7 linked regions of the Homo sapiens genome follow. The protein of the gene in region 1 purifies or fractionates together with the protein of each later gene. This does not show direct contact. Each region holds a gene or a part of one and is shown in the gene's direction. Other genes may lie near its edges.

The links.
Region 2: the proteins of MOB1B (region 1) and RASSF2 purify together in Homo sapiens (affinity purification with mass spectrometry; one large-scale study listed by BioGRID and IntAct). This does not show direct contact.
Region 3: the proteins of MOB1B (region 1) and PPP6C purify together in Homo sapiens (affinity purification with western blotting; one study listed by BioGRID and IntAct). This does not show direct contact.
Region 4: the proteins of MOB1B (region 1) and SLK purify together in Homo sapiens (affinity purification with mass spectrometry; one large-scale study listed by BioGRID and IntAct). This does not show direct contact.
Region 5: the proteins of MOB1B (region 1) and ANKRD28 purify together in Homo sapiens (affinity purification with mass spectrometry; one large-scale study listed by BioGRID and IntAct). This does not show direct contact.
Region 6: the proteins of MOB1B (region 1) and CRLF3 purify together in Homo sapiens (affinity purification with mass spectrometry; one large-scale study listed by BioGRID and IntAct). This does not show direct contact.
Region 7: the proteins of MOB1B (region 1) and PPP6R3 purify together in Homo sapiens (affinity purification with western blotting; one study listed by BioGRID and IntAct). This does not show direct contact.

What each region holds. Positions count from the first base shown.
Region 1 is NC_000004.12:70,981,830-70,985,900, forward strand, and holds part of MOB1B (MOB kinase activator 1B), read left to right. Parts: intron 1-150; coding exon 151-228; 3' UTR 229-4,071. UniProt on the Homo sapiens protein: Activator of LATS1/2 in the Hippo signaling pathway which plays a pivotal role in organ size control and tumor suppression by restricting proliferation and promoting apoptosis.
Region 2 is NC_000020.11:4,795,818-4,800,238, reverse strand, and holds part of RASSF2 (ras association domain-containing protein 2), read left to right. Parts: intron 1-2,153; coding exon 2,154-2,229; intron 2,230-4,272; coding exon 4,273-4,421. UniProt on the Homo sapiens protein: Potential tumor suppressor. Acts as a KRAS-specific effector protein. May promote apoptosis and cell cycle arrest. Stabilizes STK3/MST2 by protecting it from proteasomal degradation.
Region 3 is NC_000009.12:125,155,055-125,159,475, reverse strand, and holds part of PPP6C (serine/threonine-protein phosphatase 6 catalytic subunit), read left to right. Parts: intron 1-1,093; coding exon 1,094-1,235; intron 1,236-4,421.
Region 4 is NC_000010.11:104,018,415-104,022,835, forward strand, and holds part of SLK (STE20-like serine/threonine-protein kinase), read left to right. Parts: intron 1-369; coding exon 370-494; intron 495-1,319; coding exon 1,320-1,508; intron 1,509-2,073; coding exon 2,074-2,199; intron 2,200-3,205; coding exon 3,206-3,319; intron 3,320-4,421. UniProt on the Homo sapiens protein: Mediates apoptosis and actin stress fiber dissolution.
Region 5 is NC_000003.12:15,787,647-15,792,067, reverse strand, and holds part of ANKRD28 (serine/threonine-protein phosphatase 6 regulatory ankyrin repeat subunit A), read left to right. Parts: intron 1-4,421. UniProt on the Homo sapiens protein: Regulatory subunit of protein phosphatase 6 (PP6) that may be involved in the recognition of phosphoprotein substrates. Involved in the PP6-mediated dephosphorylation of NFKBIE opposing its degradation in response to TNF-alpha.
Region 6 is NC_000017.11:30,793,094-30,797,514, reverse strand, and holds part of CRLF3 (cytokine receptor-like factor 3), read left to right. Parts: intron 1-116; coding exon 117-204; intron 205-1,177; coding exon 1,178-1,355; intron 1,356-3,842; coding exon 3,843-4,065; intron 4,066-4,421. UniProt on the Homo sapiens protein: May play a role in the negative regulation of cell cycle progression.
Region 7 is NC_000011.10:68,568,402-68,572,822, forward strand, and holds part of PPP6R3 (serine/threonine-protein phosphatase 6 regulatory subunit 3), read left to right. Parts: intron 1-1,346; coding exon 1,347-1,496; intron 1,497-2,638; coding exon 2,639-2,703; intron 2,704-4,421.

The sequences.
Region 1 (4,071 bases):
AGACACAGACCTAGTGAACAAGAAAAAAATAATCTACTTTTATGTACTTCAAAAGCTAATTTCCAACAAATGTTCATGGTAATTTACTTTGGAATAAGATGCAAATAATGTTTTTGCTATTTATTCTGCCTTTCTTTATATCATGCATAGGAATTCAACCTTATTGATAGAAGAGAACTTGCACCACTCCAAGAACTGATTGAAAAACTCACCTCAAAAGACAGATAAAAGGATGCAGAGCTGTGCAAATTGTTCCTCAAATGAAGCAGTGTGGAGTGTATTGGGGATTTTGTTATATTTTGTTTTTATCTGGATTGTTTTTGTCCTAGGTTTGGGGGCGGGGGCTTGTTTGGGTTCCTTTTTCTTTATTCTGATTATGTGAAACCATATTCTATTGCTAGGGGAAGCCAAGAACCATTCTCTATACACTTGATAAGGGTAAATTTATCTTAGTGTTTTTAAACTTGGTTTTGGTTACTTGAGGAGTTTTTTAATAATATTGTGTGCTGCAAGAAAGTGCTTGTTGATTGAACTGCCGATGGATTGGTTTCTGTGTGGTATAAATTGTGGCCCATTTATGAAGTCCCCAAAAGAGTTATGTTTTTAAGTGCCTTGGCAGGCTCACTTCTGAGGTGCAAAACATAGATATAGAACTGAACAGGGCTTGAAACAATATTAGGATTACTACCCAGGGCACTTACTGGTGCATGTTGTAACATATCTATGATAAAAGCCATAGTTTACCTAAAATGGTGATTTCCAGCCTTTACTGCTTTGAAGAAACAGAATTTGTAAAGGTATGCATGTAGAACATAAAAAATATTTCTTAATTATTTTTTATATTGATGGTAATATATTACGTTCAACAATGCTTAAAGCTCTACAAGCAGGTCTTTTCCCACCTCTTGATATCTGTGATACTGAAACTTGAGGATGTTGAAATGTATTACATTTTGGCTTCTTTCTACATGTTAACTGCACTGTAGATGTAAAAATTCAGGTTATATATAGGATTGCCATCTTCAGAGGTGATGCTGAACTGTGAGGTTTCCTAGTAATTGCCAAATGAGCCGTAAGTCTGCAGAATTCCCTTCTACTTTGAAGAGAAGGGGATAGGAATGTATATTTGGCTGGGGGCATGGAGATGTTCGTATGTATGAGGAGTTAGGGATGGGGAGTCAAGTTCTAGAAAGTTTTGTCTGAAAACCTTTGAATAGAATGGCATGAAGATTTTAATCAATTACTTATAAACAAAGTCTTAGAGACTTCCTTTTAGGAATCAACTTCCATGAGAAGTTAAAAATAAATTATTAATTTTAGGTACAGACATTAAACATGGAATTTAAGGACTGTTGGGGGAAATTGATCACTTCTTAGCATTTCCATTCAGTGAATGGAGCTGATGTTTGCCTGTCATTTTAAGATGATACCATACCTTCTTTGGTTATTATAGGTCCAGTTTGAAGCATTCTGACTTCTGGTTTTTCCACCCTGAAAGGAAATGTTTTTCTTTGCAGCAGTATTAGATAATGAAAAATGCTAATTCAGTAGTTATTAACTTCTAAATTTTATTCGCCATGACTTTCTAGTGAATTATTACCATAAATAACAATTTCAGAAACTTAGTTTTTAGAATAAATATTAATTTTTCCACTTCAGTTTTATTCTAGAAAATACCCTTTTTAGAAATCCAGTTTTAGTTTTGTCATTTTCGATAAATCTTTCTTCAGTTAGAAATATATATCCTTCCTTCAGTTGAAACATATACCTTTTTCACATCTAGGAAGAAATGCTTGCTCTGAAATAGTATAGATTAAAAACACTCAGTAGAAAAGAATCTAAAATTAAATGAATTTGTTTTGCCATTAAAGTAGAGCAGTGATACAATTTAATGCCATTACAATTATGTTGACTAGAAACTGCCTTTTTCTCCACTTCATTTCTAGCAATTATTTACCAAGTACCAACAGTAGAAGTAACAGGAAAGCCTGGCAGAGTTAAATATCTTGGACATTTATTGGTAAAGCTTATTTATAAACTGCAGTCAGAGCTAGTTAATTTCCTTAAATCTTTTTGTATTCAGATAGATAATATGAATCATTATGGGTTGATTCAGAAATAAAATTTGTGAGGTGATTTTGAATCTTGTCCATATAGGAAAATGAAGCACAGAATTACTCAGTCTTCCATATTGTATTTGACTTCATATCAATCTAGTAAAAAAGGAGTTGCAATAGCCAAGTATAGAGAGAATAGTGAAAAATTAATCTTGCCCTTTCAAGCCTTATACAGTAGTACACTGTACTTGTTTTTAGTAGTAAGACCTACTTTCCCACTATATGTAGATAGTTTGTTTTCACTGTGCCAGAATCTCAGGTGCCTGCTTAGAGTATTTCTTTAATCACAGTCACTGGGAAGTAAGGAGATGTATATATGTGTATATATGGTAACAAAGCATAGCAGTTCTCTAGGGGAGAGGCCTGGCATTGCACATGGTGTTACATGGCTACAAGTAAGGAAAAAATCAGAAAGTGAAAGAACTGATGTAATAAAAGGTTGATTTGGTTGGTTCCCATGAAAGTTAGTAAGATGCCCTTTTAAATATAAGGATCAGTGCTTTGTTCTGCAGCAGAGTTTGCTGATAAATGTCTGTTGGATTCTTTTTGGATTTCTTTAATTAATTTGTAAGTAACCAAGATAATTATTTTCCCCCTTGCTCTCTATATTAATACGTAGCTATAAAGCAACAGTTGGTTTTCTTATCCTTTGATAAAAGCATCCCATAAAATATAAAGTAGTAAGTTAACATAGTATTATTGTCACACACAATGCTTTTTTTGGTTAAATGTTGATACGAAGCAATGTTTTGGAATTACTTTAATTGATGGAGTAGTGGTGGTAGAGAGAAATTAATAACAAAAAGAGTGAAAATATTTTAATTAGCAGTAGATGGTGCTACTGGCTTTCATTTGCTGACTTGATTATTCCCTTTCTCTTAAAAACCATGGCATTAGACTGCACTAAATTAACAAGCATGTTAGTTGCTGGTAGAGGTTTTGGAGGTTAATTTACCTTAAATTGGAAGACTTTTAATTGCAGTCTCTTTCTACCTTCCCTCTGTTAGTCATTTGTAAATTCTAAATGGTCACCATAAAATGTATTAGGTAGGAGAAGATACGTTTTATGTATAATATATCTCAGACTGAGTTACTGCCTGTCTTATCAGGATGGATAAAACACTACAGTCTCTTATCAGGAAATAGAGATGATGTGGATATTTATATATTACATATATAACCACCAGACTCCATTTTATATATTAGCATTTTCCTTGCTTATGGGAAAATAGCAAAACAACATTTCATTTATACTTTTGTTTACCCCTCTCTGAGACAGGTTTTGATAACCACTGAAATGGTAGAATATGTGAGATACAAATATTGAGTTGTAGAACTTTCTTTTTAAGGTGAATAAGTCATGCCTTAACATCCAAATAAGAGTTCATCTTCAGAGTGGTTCTTTTGGGAGCACTGTTTATTCCAGCTATACTGCAAAAGTATAATGTTTTTGGAACTGTTCTAGAGCATACCATGAAAAGCAGTTTGTTATTATGCAGGAAAATCAGTTTCATCATTTTAGTTACACTAAACACTTTTGGCAGCTTAATATGACCTTTTTAAATTTTTTTTATTTTTTTTATTTTTATTTCTTTAAGATGGAGTCTTGCTCTGTTGCCCGGGCTGGAGTACAATGGCATGATCTCAGCTCACTGCAACCTCCACCTCCTGGGTTCAAGCATTTCTCCTGCCTCAGCCTCCCAAGTAGCTGGGATTACAGGCAGCACCACACCTGGCTAATTTTCATATTTTTAGTAGAGATGGGGTTTCAACATATTGGCCAGGCTGGTCTCAAACTCCTGACCTCAAGTGATCCGCCCTCCCCAGCCTCCCAAAGTGCTGGGATTACAGGTGTGAGCCACCACAGCCAGCCAGTATGACCTATCTTAATCATCAGCTCAACTGTAATTTAAATTTGGCTGTTCTCTGGAGCTAAACCATTAGGGAAGTTCAA
Region 2 (4,421 bases), on another chromosome or scaffold:
AATTGCTTTCTGTGCACTAAAGTCTCTTGAGCTCAGGCTTTTTGCTAATGTGACTGGGCTTGAGCCAAAATAGACCCTTGAATTGGAAGTTCCAGCATAAGATTTCTCTATCTCTTTTTTTTTTTTTTAGAAGGACTCTCCCTCTGTCACCTAGGCTGGAGTGCAGTGGCGTGATCTCAGTTCATGGCAACCTCTGCCTCCTGGGTTCAAGTGATTCTCCTGCCTCAACCTCCCAGGTAGCTGGGATTACAGGCATGCGCCACCACACCCAGCTAATTTTTTAATTTTTAGTAGAGGTGGGCTTTCACCATGTTGGTCGGGCTGGTCTTGAACACCTGACCTCAGGTGATCCACCCGCCTTGGCCTCCCAAAGTGCTGGGATTACAGGCGTGAGCCACCACACCCAGCTGGGATTTCTCTATCTTAACGAAATATTTAATTTATCTGGGACTAAATTGTTGGAAGTCCTTAGGCACACTTGACACATGTTTTGTGACATCTGACCATTCTTATCTCTTTGTGGACAGATTTCCCCAGGGACTTCTACCAACCAATGATTTTCTCTCCCGGTTTCAGATCTGTGTGTTCAAAAGTACCAAACGGCCTTTTGTCTTAGGTGATTTCGAATCACATTTTCCACAAATTTATTTCAGCTTGCATAGAATCATGCTGCTTTATCTAGGTTTAACTTGTCAGGATTTTCTTGGCATTTCCAGTGGGTCTTGACTCCTGGCGTGGTCCAAAATCTCTCCACTGAATGGCTGGGTTCAGAGAGGCTGAACTCTGCCACCTCTTACTTGAGACTAGACAAAAGCGCACAGTGGCCCCCTCCACCTCTCGCCCCTCTCATCCCACCTGGAGTGCAAAACATGCACTTTCAGATGAAACTTGACTTGTGCATTCTCAGGGTTGATGAGGGATTTCCCTGATCACAAAGGGGGTGAAATCTCCTCTCTGGCCACGTGCAGTAGAGCTGTACTCCCAGTGCAGCCACTTGGAAAACTTGGTGGCTAAGGAGGTCCAGTGCTGGGCTTCAGAGGGGGAGTTTCTAAGGGTTTTTATTTTTTAATTTTTAGAACTGAAAAAGTATTGCCAGGGCCCAGAAGCCACCTCATGCCCACTTCTTGTCACTACTCCCCAAGGTGAACCACTATCCTGAATTCTAACACTCCATTTTGAACTTTCTGTCAATGGAATATGATCTGTGCTTTTTTGTGAAAGAAGCTAGACACAAGAAAAGCACATATCCTATAATTCCCATGAGTCACACACATGCGTGTAGTTGTGTAGTTCATTCACATTCTCTTCGCTGATAATTTTCCGTTGTGTGGCTATTGCTTCCTTTATGCACCCATTCTGATGCTGATGGGAGTTTGCAAGTTTTTTTTTTTTTGTTTGTTTGTTTGTTTTTTTGAGATGGAGTCTCAGTCTTTTGCCCAGGCTGGAGTGCAGTGGCGCGATCTCAGCTCACTGCAACCTCTGCCTCTGAGGTTTGGGTGATTCTCCTGCCTCAGCCTCCTGAGTAGCTGGGAATACAGGTGTGCACCACCACGCCTGGCTAATTTTTTGTATTTTTGTTAGAGATGGGGTTTCACCATGTTGGCCAGGCTGGTCTCAAACTCCTGACCTTAAGTGATCCGCTGGTCTTGGCCTCCCAAAGTACTGGGATTACAGGCATGAGCCACTGCGCGCAGCCAGCTTCTGAGTCTTGTGAAGGCCTATCATTATTGTCCTTTCCTCACTCACAGCGTGCTTGAGGGAGAAAAGGCCACAGCCATGCAGGAGAATCGCTGTGTGTGGGCTCTGAAGTGCTCGCCTCAGTGAATCCATGGCTTATTAACACCTGCTCATTCAGCTTGAGTTTGGGAGTATTGTCGGTAGACGAGGCCTGCCTTGGTGTCCTGGAGTTGCTCCTTACTTTAAGCATTGTTCTGGGGTGGTGCTCACTCTTGACTTTGATCCTGGGGGAAGATGGTTATGGGGTGGTGGTGGCAGAACTCTGTGTGCATGTGCATGTGTGTGTATGTACATGTGGACAGTTACCCAAAGTGGGGTGACTGAAGGCCAGGTGAGAGGTGAGAGAAAGAGGGAACAACTGCATTATAAGTGGCTTCAGCTGATAATGTTATATCTCTTCTATTTTTCCCCCTAAGAAATGAACTTCTCTTGCATCTGAAGACCTACAACTTGTACTATGAAGGCCAGAATTTACAGCTCCGGCACCGGGAGGTAAGGAGTCCCCAGGGACGGCCCTGATTGGCTAGTCCAGGGCTTGTCACCATGTGTCCTGGGTCTGAAGGTCCCTGAGGTCCCAAGAGAACCCTGCCTCTCCTGCTTCTTATTTAGGTTGCTAGTGAGAGTCCTTGGGGTTCTTTGGAAGAAGACTCCAGGCCCAGTTTTGTTCCAAAAAGGATGAATGTTTCAGAGATGTGTTCCAGAGACATTCCTGTAGAAATGTGGCAGGGCTAGCCCAGTCTCATGGGGGAGATTCTCCAGAGGGAGCTTTCATGAAATGACCTTTCCAGGTGGCTCCCAAGCAGACGTTCTCTCGTTGGGCAATTCGGGAACCCCACCCAGTCCTCTGTGTTTAAACATTTGGGCCCAAGTCCTATCACTGCAGTGACCTGGGCAAAGCACATAAGCTCTGGATGTTAGCAGAGTCCCCACTGATAGTGGGCCCGTCCCCACACTTGGTCATCCTAGGTTGCTTTTGTTACTCATCTGATTCCCATCCTGAAACTGAGCTTACTCATCCTGTATCCATTTCTCTAAAGCCTGTTATCAGATAGATGATGAGTTATAAAGGAGTCTGGTAGGGTACTTTATACTCAAGCGCCTGTGACTGATAAAAAGGTCCCTATGTGTAATGCCCTTTGAAACACATTTTCAGGTTATCAAGCTGTGGCGATTTAACCATAGAAACAGATAACAGATGGTGGAATTTCAGCTGCTAGGGCAGGTTGCTTGGGGACAGTATGTGGGATGTAGTGGCCTATTCTGTGTCCCTCAAACCACTCCACTTAGACAAAATCCTGTTTTGGGTTAAATTTTGACCTACAATTGTGTAAAGGAATGATGCCCACCTTGACCAGGGGAAGGCCATGTAAATTGCCTATGTTTACATAAAGCCTTCCTCCCTGAGACGCCTAAGCACCGTAAAATTGTTTCATTTCTCTCCTTCCCTCTTTTATTCCTTCCTCCCTCTTTGAGGATGATTTTGGGGCCCAAGTTAGTTAGTTGCTCAATGGGCTGATGTTATTTTCACCTATGGGGCTTGTCCTGAAGATGTGTTCCATGACCCAGATCTAACACTTGAATAGCCCATAAAACATGGCTCCAAAAAGGTTTTTCTGAGACTAGAGGGAGGAGAACCGATTCTTTTAGGAACTGCCCTTCAAGCTTTTACTAATCAGCAGCTGGGCCATGCAAGATTTTAGTTCTTAAATAGCTTTCCTGGGTTATGTCCTATAGAATAAATGATTAAAAGTGCTTCATGATTAAAGGATTTCATAGTCATAAGCGAGTCCCAATTCTTCGGGATAGAACATATAAATGCCTCTAGAATGGTTTTACATTTAATGTCTAATTAGTCAGCAACCTTTGAGTATAAATTGGGGACTCCTGCAAGATTTATTCACCTGTTGGAGAGTTGTCATTTAGCCCGTTAGTTTATTACAGAACCTGGGACATTCTGCTGTTTGGAAATCTGATTAGCACAGCCTCTCCCAGCTCATGATCACTTGACACCCTTTTAAAGACAGCAGTTCATCTGCTAGAGGAGCTAGTGTTCTGTAGAATAAACTTCGGCAAATGTTGCTTTAAATTTCCTTCAACCACCAGGTTGGATTGCTAAACAGATGTTGTAGCTAAAGAGACATCATTTTCCGTAGTAGGGGATGGGACGTAGCTAACTCCAGTTCTTGCTTCTGTTAACAAGGCTAATCTCACTTATTTTAAGAAATGTATTCCGCTTTCTTTAAAAGTCATTAGGATAAAAAGAAAAACAATGCTTTTTATAATTTATACCTATGTATTTGAATTTCACAGCAACTTTTGTGCTGACCTGTGAGGTCAGCTTCAGGATCTGGAGTAGTTGACGTCAGAAAGTATCTCAGAGCTGCGGTGTGAACTGGGCAGCTGCCCCTATCCTGTGAATACAGTCTGGGGGCCCCCAGCCAGGACATGTGAAGAATGTGTCATTTGTCCCTCAGCATGGTCTTGGCTTCTGTGGGGGCTTTTCTAGGCTCACTACTCTGATTGCTTTGTGGGCAGGAAGAAGACGAGTTCATTGTGGAGGGGCTCCTGAACATCTCCTGGGGCCTGCGCCGGCCCATTCGCCTGCAGATGCAGGATGACAACGAACGCATTCGACCCCCTCCATCCTCCTCCTCCTGGCACTCTGGCTGTAACCTGGGGGCTCA
Region 3 (4,421 bases), on another chromosome or scaffold:
CAGCTACTTGGGAGGCTGAGGTGGGATGATTGTTTAAGCTCAGGAGTTCTAGACCAACCTGGGCAACATAGTGAGACCCCATCTCTAAAAAAAAAAAAAAATTGAATTTTTAAAAATTAAATTACTTGGCCGGGCGCAGTGGCTCACGCCTGTAATCCCAGCACTTTGGGAGGCCGAGGCAGGTGGATCACCTGAGGTCAGGAGTTTGAGACCAGCCTGACCAACATGGAGAAACCCCGTCTCTACTAAAAAAAAAAAAAAAATACAAAATTAGCCGGGCTTGGTGGTGCATGCCTGTAATCCCAGCTACTCAGGAAGCTGAGGTGGGAGAATCACTTGAATCCAGGAAGGGGAGGTTGCAGTGAGCCAAGATCACGCCATTGCACTCCAGCCTGGGCAACAAGAGTGAAACTCCATCTAAAAAAAAAAAAAAAAAAAACTTAAAAAATACTGGTTAGCAGATGACCAAATCAACTAATGTAGGTAATAGAGGATTGAAAAAATGGTGGTTTTGCCAGGTGTGGTGGCTCACATCTATAATCCCAGCACTTTGGGAGGCCAACGTGGGTGGATCACAAGGTCAGGAGTTTGAGACCAGCCTGACCAACCTGGTGAAACCCCCGTCTCTACAAAAAATACAAAAATCAGCCGGGTGTGGTGGCGGCTTGTACCTGTAATCCCAGCTACTCAGGAGTCTGAGGCAAGAGAATCGCTTGAACCCGGGAGGCGGAGGTTGCAGTGAACCGAGATTGTGCCACTGCACTCCAGCCTGGGTGACAGAGTGATACTGTCTCAAAAAAAGAAAAAAAAGAAAAAAAAATGGTGGTTTTTTTTTTCAGGGAAAGTTTTTGAGAGAATGGCACAGCAGATTCTTGTAGATTTCCCTGGAATCAAAAATCTTGTTTGTATAAACATTTAATAGAAAAAATTTGTTTACGTGTATTTTATTTTTTTGTTAAAATCAAATTTCCAAATAATTCAGTATGTAACTCTTTATTGTAGTTATAAACTATATGTTTGTACAGTTTGATATAATTTGAAAAGAATATTGTGGCTATTGTATTGTTTGTAACTGTAAACTTTTACTTCACAGGGTGATTTTGTAGACAGAGGTTACTATAGTTTGGAGACCTTCACTTACCTTCTTGCATTAAAGGCTAAATGGCCTGATCGTATTACACTTTTGCGAGGAAATCATGAGAGTAGACAGATAACACAGGTCTATGGATTTTATGGTAAGAATTCCTATTTCTCTGATTCTGAATATTATTTTACTTTCCTCTTTGGAAAACAAAGCTACACAAGTCATACACATGCTTTATGTATATTATTTTCCCCACATCCTCACTCCTTCACTCCTCCCAAACAATTGAAAATCTTATGCTCGAGAGAAGACCACTGTTAACTTTTTGGTGTGCATCTTTCTAGATCTGTGCCTCAAAGTGTAGCTGGAATCACCTGGGTTCTCATTAAAAATGTAGATTGCCGGCCGGGTGGGGTGGCTCACACCTGTAATCTCAGCACTTTGGGAGGCTGAGGCAGGCGGATCACAAGATCAGGAGATCGAGACCATCCTGACCAATATGGTGAAACCCCTTCTCTTCTAAAAATACAAAAATGAGCTGAGCGTGGTGGTGTGTGCATGTAATCCCAGTTACTCGGGAGGCTGAGGCAGGAGAATTGCTTGAACCAAGGAGTCAGAGTTTGTGGTGAGCCGAGATCATGCCACAGCACTCCAGCCTGGCGACATAGGGAGACTCCGTCTCAAAAAAAAAAAAACCAAAAAAAAAAGGAGAATGCTGGGCCTCACCACAGATTTATTAATCAAAATATTTTGGAGTGGGAATCTAGAATCTGCTGAAGGTGAATGTTCTGCACAAATTTGAGAGTCCATTCTCATCCATTTTGTATGTGTGTGTGTGTGTTTATGTGTGTTTATATATGTACAAACACGTGCACACTAAAATGGGGACATACCTGATTTTTTCACTTTATTAATGTTATTTTCATGGCTGCTTCATATACCATATGGATGTAGCATAATTGATGTATCAGTTTTTCCTCTATCGTTGGACTTTAGAGTTGTTTTTAAGCTGCTGTTATACATCCTTTTACATATATCTCTGTATGCTCACTCCAGAGAATGCTAGGACCTCAGGGATCAGAAGCAGAACTTAGTCATAAACAGCAAAATAGGCCAGGCGCAGTGGCTCACCCCTGTAATCCCAGCACTTTGGGAGGCCGAGGCGGGCGGATCACCTGAGGTCAGGAGTTCGAGACCAGCCTGGCCAACTAAACCCTGTCTCTACTAAAAATACAAAAATTAGCCGGGCACTGGTAGGGGGAGGGGGGAGGGATAGCGTTAGGAGACATACCTAATGTAAATGACGAGTTAATGGGTGCAGCACACCAACATGACACATGTATACATATGTAAAAGACCGACACGTTGTGCACATGTACCCTAGAACTTAAAGTTTAATAATAAAAAAAATTTAGCCGGGCATGGTGGTGGGGGCCTGTAATCCCAGCTACTCAGGAGACTGAGGCAGGGAGAATTGATTGAACCCAGGAGGTGGAGGTTGCAGTGAGCCAAGATCGCTCCATTCCACTCCAGCCTGGGCAACTGAGCCAGACTCTGTCTCAAGAAAGGAAAAAAAGCAAACTAGCTAATTCTTTAAAACTTTTATTTGGTTGAAAGAGAGAGAGAGAGAGAGAGAGAGAGAGAGAGCGAGCTTATTAGGAAGCCCCTTCAGGGAAATAGAACTGTCAAGATTATGAATTTGGATTTTCCTTGAGCACAATTAAGACAGATATTGAGAGATTTGGAAACATTAATTGCAGAACCCTTTAGATTTAAATTTTATATTTTGAATTATCTTCTTTCATTATAAAGATAGGCTGGGCCAGGTGTGGTGGCTCATGCCTGTAATCCCAGTACTTTGGGAGGCTGAGGCAGGCAGATCACAAGGTCAGGAGATCGAGACCATCTTGGCCAACATGGTGAAACCCCGTCTCTACTTAAAATACAAAAATTAGCTGGGCATGGTGGCACTTGCCTGTAGTCCCAGCTATTCGGGAGGCTGAGGCAGGAGAATCCCTTGAACCCGGGAGGTGGAGGTTGCAGTGAGCCGAGATTGCACCATTGCACTCCAGCCTGGATGACAGTGAGGCTGTCTCAAAACGAAACAAAGCAAAGATAATCTGAACTCTCTTACTCTTCAGTTTGTCTGCCATTATCAATTAGAGAAATTTTGAGAATTTATTGTTTTTATATAATTTTTTTAATACGTGTAAAGTTAGGTAATATTTATCTCCTTTCTACAGGTGACTTTTTATTTTCATTCACAAAATAAACACCAATTGAAATACAACTTTTGGATTCTTTTGCAAAATAATCAATATTTTGGATAACATACTATGATATTAGCTCAGTGAAAACAGTACTAAAACTAATGTTATAAAAACACACACACCTACTATATATATGTAACTAATGCTACATGTATAATATATAAAATACATATTGTTATATATGGCTAATATATGACTTTTTTTTTTTTTTTTTTTTGAGACGGAGTCTCGCTCTGTCACCCAGGCTGGAGTGCAGTGGTGCGATCTTCGCTCACTGCAAGCTCTGCCTACTGGGTTCACGCCATTCTCCTGCCTCCGCCTCCCAAGTAGCTGGGACTACAGGCGCCCGCCACCATGCCCGGCTAATTTTTTTGTATTTTTTAGTAGAGACAGGGTTTCACCGTGTTAGCCAGGATGGTCTCAATCTCCTGACCTTGTGATCCGCCCGCCTCGGCCTCCCAAAGTGCTGGGATTACAGGCATGAGGCACTGCGTCCAGCCATATGACATATGTTTTGAATAAGATAATTTTAGTTATTATAGGACTTATATTGATTTTCAAGGAATAAAATATCCCTATATGACTTTACACTGGGACTTCAGTTCACACTGATAAACACATACTGGGCAGTTACTATTGAGCCAAGTTCAAGATCCCTGCCTGCAACCTGAGCTCATTGTTAGGGCTCTCTTATGGCAAGTTTACATAACAATCTTGCTTCACGTAGATATATAATTGAGAAAATCTTGGGGATTGGTCATAACCTGCAGACTTCTTTCCTATATCATTTTCAGCTTCACTTAAGGCAATAGTGATATGTCAGGTTTTTTTTTTTCTAAAATTATGGAAGAAGCCAAAGTACAGAGCTTCCATGGTGTTAACAAAAGAAGTGTGTACCCTATTAACTATGTAGACAGTCAGGGTACAGTGGCTCACATCTGTATTCTCAGCACTGTGGGAGGCTGAGGTAGGAGGATTGCTTGAGCTCAGGAGTTCAAGACCAGCCTGGACAACATAGGGAGATCCCCATCTCTACCAGAAATAAAATTAGCCAGGTGTGGTGGCAC
Region 4 (4,421 bases), on another chromosome or scaffold:
ATTTTGTGTACTCATTATGCCTTATAGTTGTTAGTATACCTAATGGTCGTGTGTTAGAATGGGATTTAAAGTACTTATCTTCCCTAACAAATTAGCTTAGATTTTTTTTTCTTTCTTATTAAGATGATTAAATAGGATTTTGGTGTTCGGAGTAGGACATTCTCTGTTTATACGACATTAGAACAGTCTGGAAAGAGGTAATAGATATTGCCTTACATTGGTTACAGTTGCACTTGGACAGCTCAGAATGTCAACATGTGTGTACGAGTTAGTGTATTTAGAATACTTCTATGTAAATATTAAAATGAAGAGCAAAGTACATTAGTAAAAAAAGAGCAAAGTGACATTTTGAAAACTGCTGTCTTCTAGCTCGAGAAGCTGCAATTTGGGAGCTCGAAGAACGACACTTACAAGAAAAACACCAGCTGCTCAAACAGCAGCTTAAAGATCAGTATTTCATGCAAAGACATCAGCTACTTAAGCGCCACGAGAAGGTTAATGAAAGGAAAATTTCTTCATTTTTTTGTTCGTTTTAAAGTTTGCAAAGCTATTTAGTTTTGAAACTTAAGTTTCTTAGATAATGAATTTTAGATTTCCTTTCTGTCTTTTATCCTACAATTTCTTGGATGAAGTTTGGAGTAATTAATTGTATCTTGATCATGATTGCAAACTTCTTTTCTACAAATTATAAGGAAAGTAACTAATTACAATGCTTAAAGACGTTTTACACCTTGTAATCTTCATCTCGGCTCTCAAAGGTAGCTATTTTGGCTCTATTTGTGGTTCAAGTATCTTAAAGTATGGACTCCTTGTACTTATTAAGAGTTGCAGTATAAAACTCTCATCACTAATAACTTTCTTTTCTTTTTATTCTTTTGAGACAGAGTCTCGCTCTGTCACCTGGGCTGGAGTGCAGTGGCACTCAGTCATAGCTCACTTAACCTCGAACTCCTGGGTTCAAGGGATCCTCCTACCTCAGCCTCCCAAGTACATTCATGCACCACCACACCCTGCTAATTAAAAAAAAAAATTTTGTGTGTGGAGACAGGGTCTCACTATGTTTCACAGGCTGGTCTCAAACTCCTAGGCTCAAGTGATCCTCCTATGTCAGCCTCCCAAAGTGCTGGGATTACAGGTGTCAGCCACCAGACCTAGCCTAACTTCTTACAAGTTATTTTGTGCCTAGTATTTTGCTGGTCACTGCAACAAGGGAGAGGGTAATTATAGGAAACAACAATAACAAAATGACATATTTGAATATGCATGTGGGTACTGACTATTGTTTCTGCGTCACTGGATTCTATTTAAAACTTTCATAGGAAACAGAGCAAATGCAGCGTTACAATCAAAGACTTATTGAGGAATTGAAAAACAGACAGACTCAAGAAAGAGCAAGACTGCCCAAGATTCAGCGCAGTGAAGCCAAGACTCGAATGGCCATGTTTAAGAAGAGTTTGAGAATTAACTCAACAGCCACACCAGATCAGGACCGTGATAAAATTAAACAGGTAAATATGCAAGTTAGTCTCTTCTCTTTTAGGTTTAAAATTTTTGAATGACCATTAGAAGTTCTACAAAATTCCTTTCTTTCTAAACAATTAGAGCCACCTTAGGCTTGTTGATGTTCACTTTAATTCTGTGGGCTGGGACTATAGATACATGGCATATACCAATTAGTCTTCCCCAGGATGGTGGTCACAGAGAGCAAAGCCCTTCCTCCTATACCCCATACCAGCTCCTGAGCTAGACTGGTCCTAAGACCAGCCCTGGGAATGAGATGACTCGGACAACTTTTCAAGTCAAGATATATGGCCTCACTGTGATACTTCTGTAGTCATGGTCACACACACAAATTAACTCAGATCACTAAGCAGATAGGAGGATCAAGGTTTTAATCAGAAGTTCCTGCTCTTCTCTGAAGCTGTGATGTGGACTCCAGGTTTGAGTCTCAGCATATTATTACTTGTAGCTTCAGTTTATTGTGCCTTGTTTTGTTAAATTCCTTTATATCTTCAGAATATATAGAAATCACATGCTTCTGAACTATAGTTTATCTTTTTTTCTTATTTATAGTTTGCTGCACAAGAAGAAAAGAGGCAGAAAAATGAGAGAATGGCTCAGCATCAGAAACATGAGAATCAAATGCGAGATCTTCAGTTGCAGTGTGAAGCCAATGTCCGCGAACTGCATCAGCTGCAGGTCAGATACAGAAGCCTGACAGCAAAGCCCATAGGATGCGGCAGCACAAGTGGCTGCTTTTGAGAGAACAGTAGCTAGCCAAAGTCAACTGCATCATACACGAACATGCTGGGTTTGAGAGGTTCTGTTTTTTGTACAGATCCAAATGAAGATCAGTTTGGTATCATAGGCACTTGTGTAGATTATATATAACCATGATTAATGTAAACATAAAGCTAAATTGTAACCTACGAAATTGAGTCTTTCAAAAGCAGTATTGAGTATGGTTTTTAGTATATTTTGCAAGAAGATGTGGAGAGTTTCAAAATGATGTAGACAGTTTTGTTGTCATATTCTGAATTTTTTGTCAGATTCTAAATTTAAAATTTCTTTTCCATTTAGAGGGAAATAGTTTATTTTCTTCTAGGTTTTTGAAATAAGTGATAAGTTAAATATATGGGAATTTTTCTCCTAGGAAATTTAAAAGTTATTCGAGAGAGGGCTGATTTAGGACCTTACATAGAATGTACAGCCCATCTAAAATGTTTAAGATTTCAGAGTAGTGTATAAATGTGGGTATCTATATATTTGCTTAATTTACTATAGTAGAACAGATCCTAATAGATTGGCCTAATGGGCCAATAGATCTTTTACAGGAATAGATCTATTAGGCCAACCCTTTAGTACCAGATCCCACATTCTGTACTCACGGGTAAAATGTATGCAGGCTGCCTTCTGAAGTGTCAGTTTTATGAGCAAATCTTCTTAGAAAGGAAAAACAAAAGCTCAAGCTAGTTCTTTTTAAGTTCTTTTTATATGGTATGTAATAGTTCTAGCTTCTAAACTTGTAAAAATGAAGCTATGATTCATTTCCTAATTCATGGCCCTTGGTTTTTATAGAGGAAAACTTGAATCTCAGTAATAGCATGATATTTGATGAGTAATTTATTATTATGGAAGATAATTGTATTTGTGAAAAATTGCTTAGTTGATCTGAAATTTTTTTAAATCCCAACTTTATTTTCAGAATGAAAAATGCCACTTGTTGGTTGAGCATGAGACTCAGAAACTGAAGGAGTTAGATGAGGAACATAGCCAAGAATTAAAGGAGTGGAGAGAGAAATTGAGACCTAGGAAAAAGGTAATTTTAAAAGCTTTAATTAAAATGATATGTGTGTACTCGTCCGTCTACCCAGCTATTGGCTCTTTACCTACTGTGTCAGGTACAGTGTCAGGGGCAGGAAACATAGAGATGAAAAGACAAAGTTTTTGTCCCCAGAAGTTTTGGAATCTAGTGACAAGCAGTTAGGAATTGGTAGGGTCATTGCTCTGAAGGAGGTGAGTACAGGATACAAGGGAAAGGAACAGATTTTGTAAGCAGAGGAGGAGGAGAGCTTAAATCTGCCTGGGTAAGTCAGGGAGGGTCTTCAAGAGGAGATGCCTTGCAAGCCAAGTGAGTCTTGAAGGGTGAGTAAGAACTTGCTAAGCGGATGGGCTGATTGGAGTGGAATGGGATGATTTGAGTAGGGAGAAGAGAATGAGTGAAAAGGAAGCGTACAGAGAATTGTAGATCGTTCTCTGACATTGGAGTATGAGAGGGGGTGTGTGCCAGTGTGTAGTCATTAGGGAGGAAGAAAAGGAAGGAAGGAAGGAAGCGATGACAGCTGAGTCTGAACAGGTCAACTGGAGCCATATTAAAAGGCCCTGTTATTCTACGTAAACTTGAAATCTGGTAAAATAGGGATGGTGTCTTCTCTGTCTCACCCCTTTCCCTTGTTTGTGCTTGACACCCTATTCACCTGGTCTTACTGGCTAACCATTTCACCTGAGTTTTTGCTATCACTATATGATCTCTGACCCTTCGTTACTCAAACTTAAACCTTTGTTTTGGGGGGAGCTTCCTGCCTACTGTACATTTCCACCATTCCTTTCTTCCATCCATACAATCAGTCAAGGAAATATGTATTTAGCTATGTGCCAAAGGAAGTGAAATGACTAAATGAGTTCATAGTGTGGCTTTTTGTTTGTTTGTTTAGACAGAGTCTCACTCTGTCGCCCAGGCTGGAGTGCAATGGTGCGATCTCGGCTCACTGCAACCTCCGCCTCCTGGGTTCAAGCAATTCCTCTGCCTCAGCCCCCCAGGTAGCTGGGATTACAGGCATCCACCACCACACCTGGCTAATTTTTGTATTTTCAGTAGAGACGGGGCTTCGCCATGTTGGCCAGGCTGGTCTCAAACTCCA
Region 5 (4,421 bases), on another chromosome or scaffold:
ACTTTTGGATAAAAGGCATTTTAACTGGGACAAGATGATATCTCATTGAGTTTTGGATATCTGATGATTAGTGATGTTGAGAACCTTTTCACCATTTGTGTGTCTTCTTTTGAGGAATGTCTATTCAGATCTTTTGCCCATTTTTTATCAGATTATTAGGTTTTTTCCTGTAGAGTTGTTTGAGCTCCTTATATTCTGGTTATTAGTCCCCTGTCAGAGGGGTAGTTTGCAAATGTTTTCTCTCGTTCTGTGGGTTGTCTCTTCACTTTGTTGATTACTTCCTTTGCTGTGCAGAAGCTTTTTAACTTGATGTGATCCCATTTGTCCATGTTTGCTTTGGTTGCCTGTGCTTGTGGGCTATTGCTCAAGAAATATTTGCTCAGACTAATGTCCTGGAGATTTTCCCCAGTGTTTTCTTGTATTAGATTCAGTTTGAAGTATTTAATGCATTTTGATTTGAATTTTGTATATGGCAAGAGATAGGGGTCTGGTTTCATGATTTTGCATGTGTTTATCCAGTTTCCCAGCACCATTTATTAAAGAGACTTGTCTTTTCCCAGTGTATGTTCTTGGCACCTTTGTCAAAAATGAGTTTGCTGTAGGTGTTTGGATTTGGTTTTGGGTTCTCTGTTCTGTTCTATTGGTACACGTGTCTGTTTTTGTGACAGTACCATGCTGTTTTGGTTACGATAGGTCTGTAGCATAATTTGAAGTTAGATAATGGGATTCCACCAGTTTTGTTCTTTTTGCTTAGGGTGGCTTTGGCTATTCTGGGTCTTTTCTGGTTCCATATAAATTTTAGTATTTTTTCTATTCCTGTGAAGAATTCCATTGGTATTTTGATTGGGATTGCATTGAATCTATAGATTGCCAGGACATTTTAACAGTGTTGATTCATCCCAATCCATGAACATGGAATATTTTTCCATTTTTTGGTGTCCTCTTCAATTTTCTTCATTCGTGTTTTATTGTTTCCATTATAGAGATCTTTTACTTCTTTGGTTAATTCCTAAGTATTTAATTTTATGTATGGCTATTGTAAACAGGATTACTTTTTAGTTTCTTTTTCACATTGTTCACTGTTGGCATATAGAAATGCTAGTGATGTTTGTACATTGATTTTGTATTCTGGAACTTTACTGAATTTATCAGTTCTAGTTTTCTTGTGGAATGTTTAGGTTTTTCCAAATATAAGATTATATCACCAACAAACAGGTATAATTTGACTTCTTCCTTCCCAATTTGTATGCCTTTGATATCTTTCTCTTGTCTGATTGAGCTAGATAGGACTTCCAGTACTATGTTAAATAACAGTGGTGACAGTGGGCATCCTTGTGTTGCAGGTCTTAGAGGAAAGATTTTCAGTTTTTCCTCATTCAGCATGATACTAGCTGTGGGTCTGTCATATATGGCTTTTATTATGTTGAGATATGTTCCTTCCATATCCAGTTTTTTGAGGGTTTTTATCATGAAGGGATATTGAATTTTTTAATCAAATGTTTTTTCAACATCAGTTGAAATGATCATATGGTTATTCTTTATTTTTTTGATATGATATATCATGTTAATTGATTTTGTGTTTTGAACCATCCTTGCATCCCACAGATAAATCCCACTTGATCATGATGAATGATCTTTCTAATATATTGTTGAATTCAGTTGTGCTAGTATTTTGTTGAGGATTTCTGCATTAATACTCATCAGCGATACTGGCCTGTAGTTTTCTTTTTTTGATGTGTCTTTGTCTGGTTTTGGTATCAGGGTAATACTGGCCTTGAATGAATTTGGAAGTATTCCCTCCTCTATTTTTTAGAATATTTTGAGTAGGATTGGTATTAGTTCTTCTTTAAATGTTTGGTAGAATTCAGCAGTGAAGCCATTATGTCCTGGCCTTTTCATTACTAGAAGACTTTTTATTACAGCTTTGATCTCATTACTTGTTACTGGTCTGTTCTGGTTTTGGATTTCCTCTTGTTTCAATCTTGGTAGGTTGTATATGTCTAGGAATGTGTCCATTTCTTCTATATTTTCCAGTTTATCAGCATATATAGTTGCTTACAGTAACCACTAACAAGCCTTTGGATTTCTGCATAAGTCATAATGTCTGTGTAAGTCGTAATTTCTGTGTAAGTTGTAATGTCTCCTTTTTCATTTCTGATTTTATTTGGATCTTCTTCTCTTTTTTTCTTAGTCTGGCTAAAGATTTGTCAATTGTATTTTTTTAAGTCAACTTTTTGTTTCCCTAATAGATTTTTAACAAACTTTAATTTTAAAAAATTATATATTCATATTATTTGGTATGACATGAAGTCTTCTAGAAGTCATGTAACATAGTTTCACTAGCAAATACTAGAGTTTTATATTTGGCAGATTTTGGCCACAGATATAATAATTGACTACCTGAATAAATAGAGGTTTTTTGCTTGTGTAATAATTTAATCTAGAGCATGGTAATTTGGGGTTGTTTAAAACAGCAATGTCAGAGCTCTGGGTGAGCTTCTCTGTGAAACTCTTGGCTTTCTCATAATAAAGAGATGACTGCTGTATCATGTACTTATGGGAGACAACCAAAGACATTGGAAAAGAGACTCTCCTGTACATTTTCTTTTCTTTTCTTTTCTTTTTTTTTTAAAAAAAGGAGAAAACCTCTCTTCGAAAGTCCCCACAAAATTCCTTCCTAAGGTTCCATTGGTTACAAGACTACTCTAAACTAATTCACCAGCAAAGCAGAATGGGGTTCGCTTTTTGCTAGATCAGTCTTGGTTCATCACCTGGTTCATCCCCTGGAGCAGGAATAGGGCTTCAGTGGACTTTATTGAATATATTGCCATATTCAGGAGTAAATCAGGATTTTCATAGGAAGGAAGAAAGGGAAAATAGTTGTTTGGATAGGAACCTAACTGGACGGTTATTAGTTGCCTAAAAACTGTTGAAATAGCAAAATTTTGGAAAAATAAGTCACCTGGATGTGGAAGAAGCACTGTAAACCATAAAAGGGTGAAATGCAATCAAAATGTTTTAAAAGCAGAGTGGTACATAGAATGTGAAGAACAGTTGGACTCTAAGTTGAAAGACCTAGATTTTCATATCTTCTTAGCCTTATTGGCTATACAAGTTGAGTGAATCCTGTTAACTTCAGCCCTCACTCTTCTTTTTTTTTGGGGGGGTAAATGTGTAGGGTTACATTAATGATCTTCACAGTCTTTCCCCACTCCAAATTCAGGACACTCTAAAAATTCTAAATGACTTTCAGTGACCTCCTGCTTTTGCCCAAAAGCTTTCATTTGTGTTTCTAGATTTTCGTGACCAAAATAATAAATGCCTTTCCCTAAGATTTACTAGAACTTAATGCCATGTTGTAGAACCCAAATAGGTTAATCTGAAATATTAATGATACCACATTTTAGAGGAAAACTTTGATTCTTCTTTATAAGAAAATTATTTTCTACAAATATTAATTTTTTATTAAGAGTATTAAAATTGGTGTTAATTGTAGAACTTTACTTTTGAGACAGACATAGGCATAAGCCATTTTGTATTACTCAATTTAACTTGTACAACAGTTTTATAAAATTGACAGGTTAACATTTCTACTAAAATTCACAAAAATTAACCGTCTGCAGAATCAGTATAGCAGAATGGGAATTTGAACCCATGTCCGACTTAATAGTAACTGGAGAAATAAAGCATATTGTTGAGAGAGAAATATTTTTTCTTCTGCCAAATAGTACTATAAAGCAATAATAGTTGGAAAATGGATGTTTCTCTCTAAAATAGTTATGTCTGTGCCCTATGAACTCCTGCCTTTTAAGCTGTGATACAAAGATAATCCTAATTTTTATAATACCAAGTGCTGTTACATTTTATCATTGCAAACAAGTGATGAGACAAATAAGACACAAGCCTTCTTTAGTGCCATATTTTTTTGGTAGATAAAAATGTCAAAGTAGTATTACACAAGGATCCAGCCAAACTGTTTTTAGTGTTTAAACATAGGAAGGCTGAGATTATGAGCAACCCTTTTTAAACTCTAAAGAGCTGATTTAAGAGCTAAGCGGTAGATCTTAGATGTAGCATATAACTTAATATTTTTGAAAGTGTTACCTTGTATATTCTGCTTATTGGCTTCTGAATTTAGATATACTTTATTATTCAAAAATGAATTGCAAAAGTAGTCCTCCAAATTATTATCCCTTGTTTTCAAAACCGCTTTCTGAAATCATTGAAATGATGTTCATTTTACATTTTTCACATGAAGTGCTCAGCAAATACAGTCTTTTCTGAAAATTAGCAAGAAGCAGTCTAATCTTGAACAAGTCTTTCTTAGTGGCCACATGTTGCTTCTGCTGACTGTCAGTACACCAAGCTGTTGATGTTTCTGAGCTCTTAAAAAATCTCTTCACTCATTACTTGAGGCTGTG
Region 6 (4,421 bases), on another chromosome or scaffold:
GCATCACTTAAGAACTTATTTGCAAGAACGCTAGAGACCCACCCAGACATGAGTTGTGTTGATTACTTTATATGTGACCATTTTCATTGTTCTAGTTCTCTTATTCTTGATTGTAGGTGAAATCGCCATGCTTGGTGGTGTGGGAGAAGAGAATGAGAAACTGTGGAGCTTTACCAAAAAGGCCTCGCACATTCAGTTGGACAGGTAAAAGAGTTTGTGCCTTTTTGACTTACTTTTAAGCATTTAAACTATGTCTGCTTTTTTCCTCCCTCTGTTCAAGATTCTCATTAAGGGAGATAGAGAATATATATTTCAAGGTTTTCAGACCATGCGTGGTGGTTTACACCTGTAATCCCAGCACGTTGGGAGGCCAAGGCGGGTGGATTGCTTGAGGCCAGGAGTTTGAGACCAGCCTGGCCAACATGTTGAAACCCTGTCTCTACTAAAAATATAAAAATTAGACGGGCATGGACCTGTAATCCAGCTACTTGGGGAGGCTGAGACAGGAGAATTGCTTGAACCCAGGAGGCAGATGTTGCAGTGAGCCAAGTTTGTACCACTACACTCCAGCCTGGGCAACAGCAAGACTCCATCTCAAAATAAGTATAAAATAAAATAAAAAATTATCCGGGCATGGTGGCGTGCGCCTGTAAGTCCCAGCTACTCGAGAGGCTGAGGCAAGAGAGTCGCTTGAATCGGGGAGGTGGAGGTTGCAGTGAGCTGAGATCGCACCACAGCACTCCAGCCTAGGGGACAGAGTGAGACTCTGTCTGAAAAAAAAAAAAAAAAGCGTTTCACTGCCCATTACCACTGTTACTAATGAAATAGTTGTGATTATAATCCTTGGTATAGTATTACTACACATTTTTTCAATCCAATATATAAAAGAATTGTTAAATTTTAGAAATTATCAATGTATTGTTGAAATGGAGTCATATTCCAGTAAACCAGATCTTTTGGCTTAAACTGGACAGTTATGATCCTACCAATTTTCTGTCTTACTTATATTTATTTGAAAAGAGAATCTTTGTGTAACATCTTGCAAATCCCCTACTGCCATGAGAATTAATTACTGGGGGCTTCAGGATCTTTCAAGCATGTGACTGCTCTAAAATATTTCTTGTATTTTTTAACTCTCAGTTAGAGGTCTCATAACACATGAGCTTTGTTTCCTCAGCTTACCAGAAGTACCTTTACTGGTTGATGTGCCTTGTTTATCTGCTCAGTTGGATGACTCAATTCTTAACATAGTGAAAGACCACATTTTTAAGCATGGAACAGTAGCATCTCGCCCACCAGTACAGATAGAAGAACTAATAGAGAAACCTGGAGGCATCATTGTACGATGGTGTAAGGTATGTAATTCAGAATTCTAGAAATGACTTCCACATTATGGGTTTGCGATTTGGAGGCCTTTCAGATTTTTTCGTTGACTACTTTTAAATACATTCTTTTCTTCTCAAACAAAAATCTCTTTTACTTTACAGTTAAAATGAAGTCACATGGAACACTGAGGTAGCTCTTCCAGTTTTATTTTTATTTTATTTATTTATTTTTTGAGACAGAGTTTTGCTCTTTCACCGAGGCTGGAGTGAAGTGGCGTGATCTCGGCTTACTGCAACCTCCATGCCCTCCCCCGCCTGCCGCTTCCCCCGGGTTCAAGCCATTCTCCTGCTTCGGCCTCCTGAGTAGCTGGGATTATAGGCACCTGCCATCACACCTGCCTAATTTTTGTATTTTTTGTAGAGACGAGGTTTCACCATGTTGGCCAGGCTGTTCTTGAACTCCTGACCTCAGGTGACCCACTCGCCTCGGCCACCCAAAGTGCTGGGATTATAGGTGTGAGCCGCCGTGCCTGGCCTTTTTTTTTTAAATGAAGCCTTGCTGTGTCGCCCAGGCTGGAGTGCAGCGATGCAACCTCCGACCTCAGGTGATCTGCCCACCTTGGCCTCCCAAAGTGCTGGGATTACAGGTGTGAGCCACTCCGCCTGGCTGACATTTTCTTTTTTTTTTTTTTTGAGACAGAGTTTCGTTGTTGTTGTTCAGGCTGGAATACAATGGCACGATCTTGGCTCACCACAACCTCCGTCTCCCGGGTTCAAGCAATCCTCCTGCCTCAGCCTCCCAAGTAGCTGGGATTAAGGCATGCGCCACCACACCTGGCTAAGTTTGTATTTTTAGTATTTTTGTATTTTTAGTAGAGACAGAGTTTCTCCATGTTGGTCAGGTTGGTCTCAAACTCCCGACCTCAGGTGATCTGCCCACCTCGGCCTCCCAAAGTGCTGGGATTACAGGTGTGAGCCACTGTGCCCAGCTGAGATTTTATTAAAAGGAAATTTTTTTTTCTTTTTTTATAAACATGCTGTTGTTATTTTCTAACAGGACTGTCATTCCATTTTTATTATTTTTCCTATCAGTGGACCTAGTTATTTCCAGTTTTTTGCTATAAGTATTTTTACTTGTGTTTCTTTATGGACATATGTGAAGTTTGTAAAATATTAATATTTACCTAGGTGTAAAATTATGAGGTCTTCTTAGAGTATTGGATCCATACGCTGATAGGTAATAACAAACTTTCCACAAGATGATTCTATCAATTTAGCCTTCCAAGGAGTATATGAGTTTCTGTTATTCCATATCTTGACCAATAATTGGCATTGTGAGACTTTATATTTTTGCCTAAATGTACCTTGTTGTGGTTTTATTTATTTGTTTGTTTTTGAGACAGGGTCTCACTCTGTCACCCAGGCTGGAGTACAGTGGCACAATCATGTCTCCAGTCTCAATCTCCTGGGCTCAAGTGATCCTCCCGCCTCAGCCCCCAAGTAATTGGGACTTCAGGCATGTGCTTCCACAGCCAGCTAAGTTTTGTAATTTTTTGTAGAGATGGGGTTTTGCTGTGTTGCCTAGGCTGGCCTCAAATTCCTGGGCTCAAGTGCTCCACCCGCTTCGGCCTCTCAAAGTGTTAGGATTATAGGCATGAGCCATCATGTCTGGCCTTGTTGTGGTTTTAGATCGTATTTGCCATATTACAAATTAGGTACAAATTAGGTTGAATATTCATAATATACATTTTTGGCTATTTATGTTTCTTCTCCTGTAGAACGCTTATTTATGTCTTTTACCCATTTTTCTATTGGGTGGCTAATTAACATACAGAATATATGCAGGACCCCTAAAAATTAATGGGGGTTCTGTATACTGTATGTTAATTATCTCTTGGTTATTATGAATGATGTATGGTTGTGGGAGACTTACTGAATCTTGAATGTTTTATCTTTGGCATTGATTAAAAAACATGCCATTTCTTCAAAGGAGGCAGACTTTTTTATATCAGACTGGGAAATACAGAACACATGGTTCAATAAAGAAAAGAAGGGAGCCCAGGCGCAGTGTCTCACGCCTATAGTCCTAGCACTTTGAGAGGCTGAGACGAGAAGATTGCTTGAGCTCAGGAGTTAAAGATCTGAGATATGGTGAAGCCCAGTCTCTACAAAAAATACAAAAAATTAGCCGGACATGGTGGTGTGCACCTGAAATCCCAGCTACTTGTGGGGTGGAAGGAAGAGGATGGCTTGAACCCGGGGTGTGGAGGCTGCAATAAGCCGAGATCACGCCACTGCACTACAGCCTGGGTGACAAAGTGAGACCCTTTCTCAAAAAAAAAAGAAGGGAGATAATGATGTGATGGCATATTTTCTATGGCCTTCCCAAGAATACCCCATATTCAGCATGTGGGCCTGTCTGCTTGGTCCAAAATGGCTCCGTTCAAAATTTTTAAGCAGTGATGCTGAGAGAAGTCATTTTCTGTTTTTTACCTAACATAAAGCTTTTCTCCCTAGGTGGATGATGACTTTACAGCCCAAGATTACAGGCTCCAGTTTCGTAAATGTACTTCAAATCATTTTGAGGATGTATATGTAGGTTCTGAAACTGAATTCATAGTATTGCACATAGACCCCAACGTTGATTACCAGTTCAGAGTCTGCGCCCGAGGAGATGGCCGACAGGAGTGGAGTCCTTGGAGTGTCCCCCAGATAGGTCATTCCACATTGGTGCCTCATGGTATGCTGCTAACCTTTTCTCTCCTGAAGCCTAACTATATATTAGAATACCTGTATTCTGTGCTAAGGGCAGCACACTGACAACCAGCTATTCTAAGCATAGATCCTGAATTGATAAGAACAACATGCACCATGTCTTTTACTCAGATTACCTCATGTGATTTTTGTTTTCATCAGTTCTTCAGAGTCCAAAAAAAATGCTGGACAAGATTTTTAGCCTCATTGAAAACCAAAGATTGAAAATATTATGTAGGGCACTGATATTCCTTTTTATTCTTTTTTTTATATTTGAATGTTATTTAGTTAGTTTTTTTGAGACAAGGTCTCACTCTGTCGCCCAGGCTGGTGTGTGGTGGT
Region 7 (4,421 bases), on another chromosome or scaffold:
AGTTACTCATTACTTCTTCATTTTGAGATTAGATAACCAGACCCAACCATTTCCTAAATATGACATACTAAATTGACTTCCAAAATATGGCATTTTGTACTTTTAGAAATTCTTTCCCTTTTGTAATGCTATTACCTTTTCAAGTAATTTGAAAACCCTTGTACTTCCAGGAGATTCACGTTACTGCCTCTCGTATCCTCATTTGTTTTTGCTGATAGCTCTAGTTTTTGTATGCTGGAGTTGAGTCATGAGCACCTCAAGACTGTGGACCGTATTTTTGTGTATCTCTGTCTGCCATGTTGCATCTCATACAATACCCTGCACAAAAACCATCAGTAAATATTTGTTGCATCAAAATGAAATTCTTACAATTTTTTTTTTTTTTTGAGATGGAGTCTGGCTCAGTCGCCCAGGCTGGAGTGCAGTGATCTTGGCTCACTGCAAGCTCCGCCTCCTGGGTTCACGCCATTCTCCTGCCTCAGCCTCCTGAGTAGCTGGGGCCACAGGCGCCCGCCACCACACCCAGCGATTTTTTTGTATTTTTAGTAGAGACGGGGTTTCACCGTGTTAGGATGGTCTTGATCTCCTGACCTCGTGATCCGCCCGCCTCGGCCTCCCAGAGTGCAGAGATTACAGGCATGAGCCACCACGCCTGGCCTCTTATAAATTTTTTTGAAAATTATAGAAAATTTACCACGCTAACTATTTGTGTTAGTTGCTTTGAAGAGAAAAAAGATACTCCCTTTCTCTTGGAGAAACGTACTCTTGTCTTTGTATGTTTGTTGTTGGTTTTTTACTAGATTCCATACCAGTTCTGGCATGTCAGATAAGCAGATAGCACGCCATTTAGGCTCTAAAGCAATACTTCACATCCCCATTTAGTCCTCGTTATTTATGAGGGATACCTTCCAAGACTCCTTTGGATGCCTGAAACCACAGCTATCGAACCCTATATATACTATGTGTTTTTCCTATACATACCTGTGACAAAGTTTAATTTATAAATTAAGCACAGGAAGAGATTAATAATAACTAATAATAAAGTAGAACAATTATAAATCTATACTGTAATGAATGTTATGTGAATGTCATCTCTTGGATTAGCATGTCTTACTGTATTATACTCACCTATTTTCAGATCATGGTTGACTGTGGGTAACTGAAACCACAGAAAATGAAACTGTGGTTATGCAAGTACTAATGTGAACTCAGGTTCCTTTTAATTGGTCCTTTTGGACTGAGAGCACATCATTTTTACTTTATTAAATCACTGTTCTGTAAATGTATTTAAGTATTGGCTTAAACATTGAGGTAACCGAATAAAACATGGTTTTTCTTTTTTGTAGAACATGTTCTTCAAGTATACATGGAATAACTTTTTGCATACACAAGTGGAAATTTGTATTGCACTGATTCTTGCAAGTCCTTTTGAAAACACAGAAAATGCCACAATTACCGATCAAGACTCCACTGGTGATAATTTGTTATTAAAACATGTAAGCTTATTTGGTCTCGTTTTTCTCCCACTCTCTCCTGGTTATAGCAGTTTTCCACTTGACTGTGATGTGAATTGAGGTTTAAAGGGCTTGAGGTTAGATTTCAGAGTCTAAATATTTGACAATCATGTGTTCGTTTCACTTTTAACATATAAATCATTATATAAATCAAGTACTGGACAAATAACTATTAAATGAACAGTCTTGTAAGAAAAAAGCTAAGTGGCCTCCTTATTTGGTAAAATTAATAGGTTTGAAGATATATAAATTCTTTGATGATTTGAAGAATCATAGAAATTTAAATACTATGGAAAACATTTGCACTATTATTTGGCTGACCAGAGTGTAGTTTCTTTGCTGAATACGTGACTGAAAGTCAGGAGAACTGAGTTCTTTGTGATGTTGAGAGTCTTCCTGGGGTCTCTTTTTCTCTTCTGTCAAATATGAGATAATTTTACTAAGTCAGTCTTCAGATTTTTTCTTGCTTGGTAGTTCTATGGTACTTTTAAAATTTCTAGCCCACACTTGGTTTACTCGCAAACCTAAAATGTAGAAAAGGCTAGCTTGGAACAGCCAAGTTGATGGGAAAGACAAATGACACCTGAGAAGAACTAGCCCTGCACATTCCAGTATTGCAGCCTACAGCAGTTGTCACTGACTTGCAGACTTTGGGCAAAACCCACCTGTTTTTAATATTAATGCAGTAATGTTAGTTCATCTGGAAGTAAGACGTGCTCACATTTTAAAAGTACAAGCATTACTTTGGATTCTAAGTTAAATTTTTGCCAAGGCATAGTTTTCTTTATTCCATTTTAATTTAGCTCAGGTTTTATATTTCTGTTCTGAATTTTCACAGCTAATAAAACCTGGCTTTCCTTTATAGTTAACTATAGGTAGTTAACTGCACTACCTATAATACTGAGTTTCCTGTAGATGTTCTGTGGAGGGTGTGGATCCTGATTTGAATCTCTGTAGTGTTGTGGGTGTCTGCAGTAGATTGATGATCACATTGCATTTGGCTTAGTAACATTTAGCTTGCTAGATTATGCATACTACTATTCTCTTTAACCTAGAGTTCTGTTTCACTTTAAAGTTTTGATGCTTTGAAGTATTAACTGGAATATTCTTTTTTTTTTTTTCAGCTTTTCCAAAAATGTCAATTAATAGAACGAATACTTGAAGCCTGGGAAATGAATGAGAAGAAACAGTAAGTAAATTGTTTTTTTGAAAGGAATTCAGTTTGGTTGGTAATATGAGGAAAATAATACCTCCTTGCCCTAGTCAGAAAAAAATGGAAATAATTACATGATACTGGCCATTTTACAATTTAAACTTTTCCCCAGATTATTTCATTGTAACAGTTGTTTTTATAATACTAATAATTTCTTGTTAGGTCCTCTTGTTTTTGGGGCAAAACAAGTGAGTTCGGAGTGTTCCCCACCTCTGTGCTGCCTTTGAAACTTCCTGGTCCTTTTTGAATGGCTACTGTTCTAAGAGTTATAAGGTTAAAGTTAAGTCCTTGATGATGTGACTTAGTGTATTTGTCCTGGTCACCTTATGCTCAGAACAGAAGGTATCACGTACATATTTTCATTGTAGAGAAGAGTTGCTTTGTACAGGGACCTAGAGGAAAAAAATTGCTCAGTGTTTTCTTTTTAGAAAATGTTTGTTAGCTGATTGGCAAGGTTATGTGAAGTATTAGTTGATACATGTAAGTAGCTTTGTTACACAAAACGTTTTCTTACAGGTGTTGTCTGTAACAGCATTCCTCTCTAGTGCCCTGGAAGCCTTTATGTCACCCCGTAGATTCTGAAGCATGGTGGCATAAGGGCGTGTTTGGGAAACACTCTGAAGGCATGCTTCTGTGTTTGTTTTTAAGACAGGTTTATTGAGATATAATTCTCATATGGTAAAGCTCATTTTAGGTGTACATTCCTAGGAATTCTGACTGATGCCTGAAGTCACCATCACCACAATCAAGACATTTCTGTCACCCCCAAAATTTCTCTCATGGTCCTTTGTAGTTGATCATTTCCCAGCATTCTTGTTATGTGTCTCTGTGTCTCCAGGAAAGCTAGATGACTCTTGGGAGTCAGCCTTACTTTGTGAGGTTTGATTTTTTTTTTTTAAATCGTTTAATAAGCACTGCTACTAGGGTTTTGATTTGGCTTCATGTGGGAAATTGGCATTTTGTTTGTTTGTTTGTGGCAAGGGGCTAGTATTGGTAGACCTCAGATACATTCTTCCAAATGGAGCTCTTTGGAGATGCTGTTTGTGGCCCAGTTGACATCTCTGGTTATATGTCTGACTCCGTCTTGGCTTCTCTGTGTCCTTCCCAACCTCCAGTCTTCTTGCTGCCTCCTCATCTGGCCAGGGCTCAGATATCCTTTGTGCCCTGCTCTCCTGGTGAGTCCCGTTTTCTGGAGGCCTGGTGAATACCATTCCCTCTGTCTAGGGGGATCCCGAAAGAACTTTCCTTGTTTCCTTGCACAACAGCCTGAAGCAGTTTGAAGCTGTGGGTCACCTTAGAGATGGGCCTTTGTTTTCTTTCACTTGTGTACTTGAGGGTGTGCAGAAGAGTGACTCAGTTGCCTGTAGGTAACACCTGGCTCTCTGGATCTTACTGAAGAACTAAAAGAGACTCTGAGCAACTCAGTGAAGATTGACTCTGGCCAGGCACGGTGGGAGATGCCTGTAATCCCACTGCTTTGGGAGGCTGAGATGGGAGGATTGGTTGAGGCCAGGGGTTCGAGACCAGTCTGGACAACATAGGGAGATCCTGGCTCTACAAAAAATTAGCCGGATGTGGTGGTACTTGCCTATAGTCCCAGCTACTCAAGAGGCCGAAGTGAGAGAATTGCCTGAGCCCAGGAGTTTGAAGCTGCAATGAGCTGTGATTGCACCACTGCACTCCAGCCTGGATGA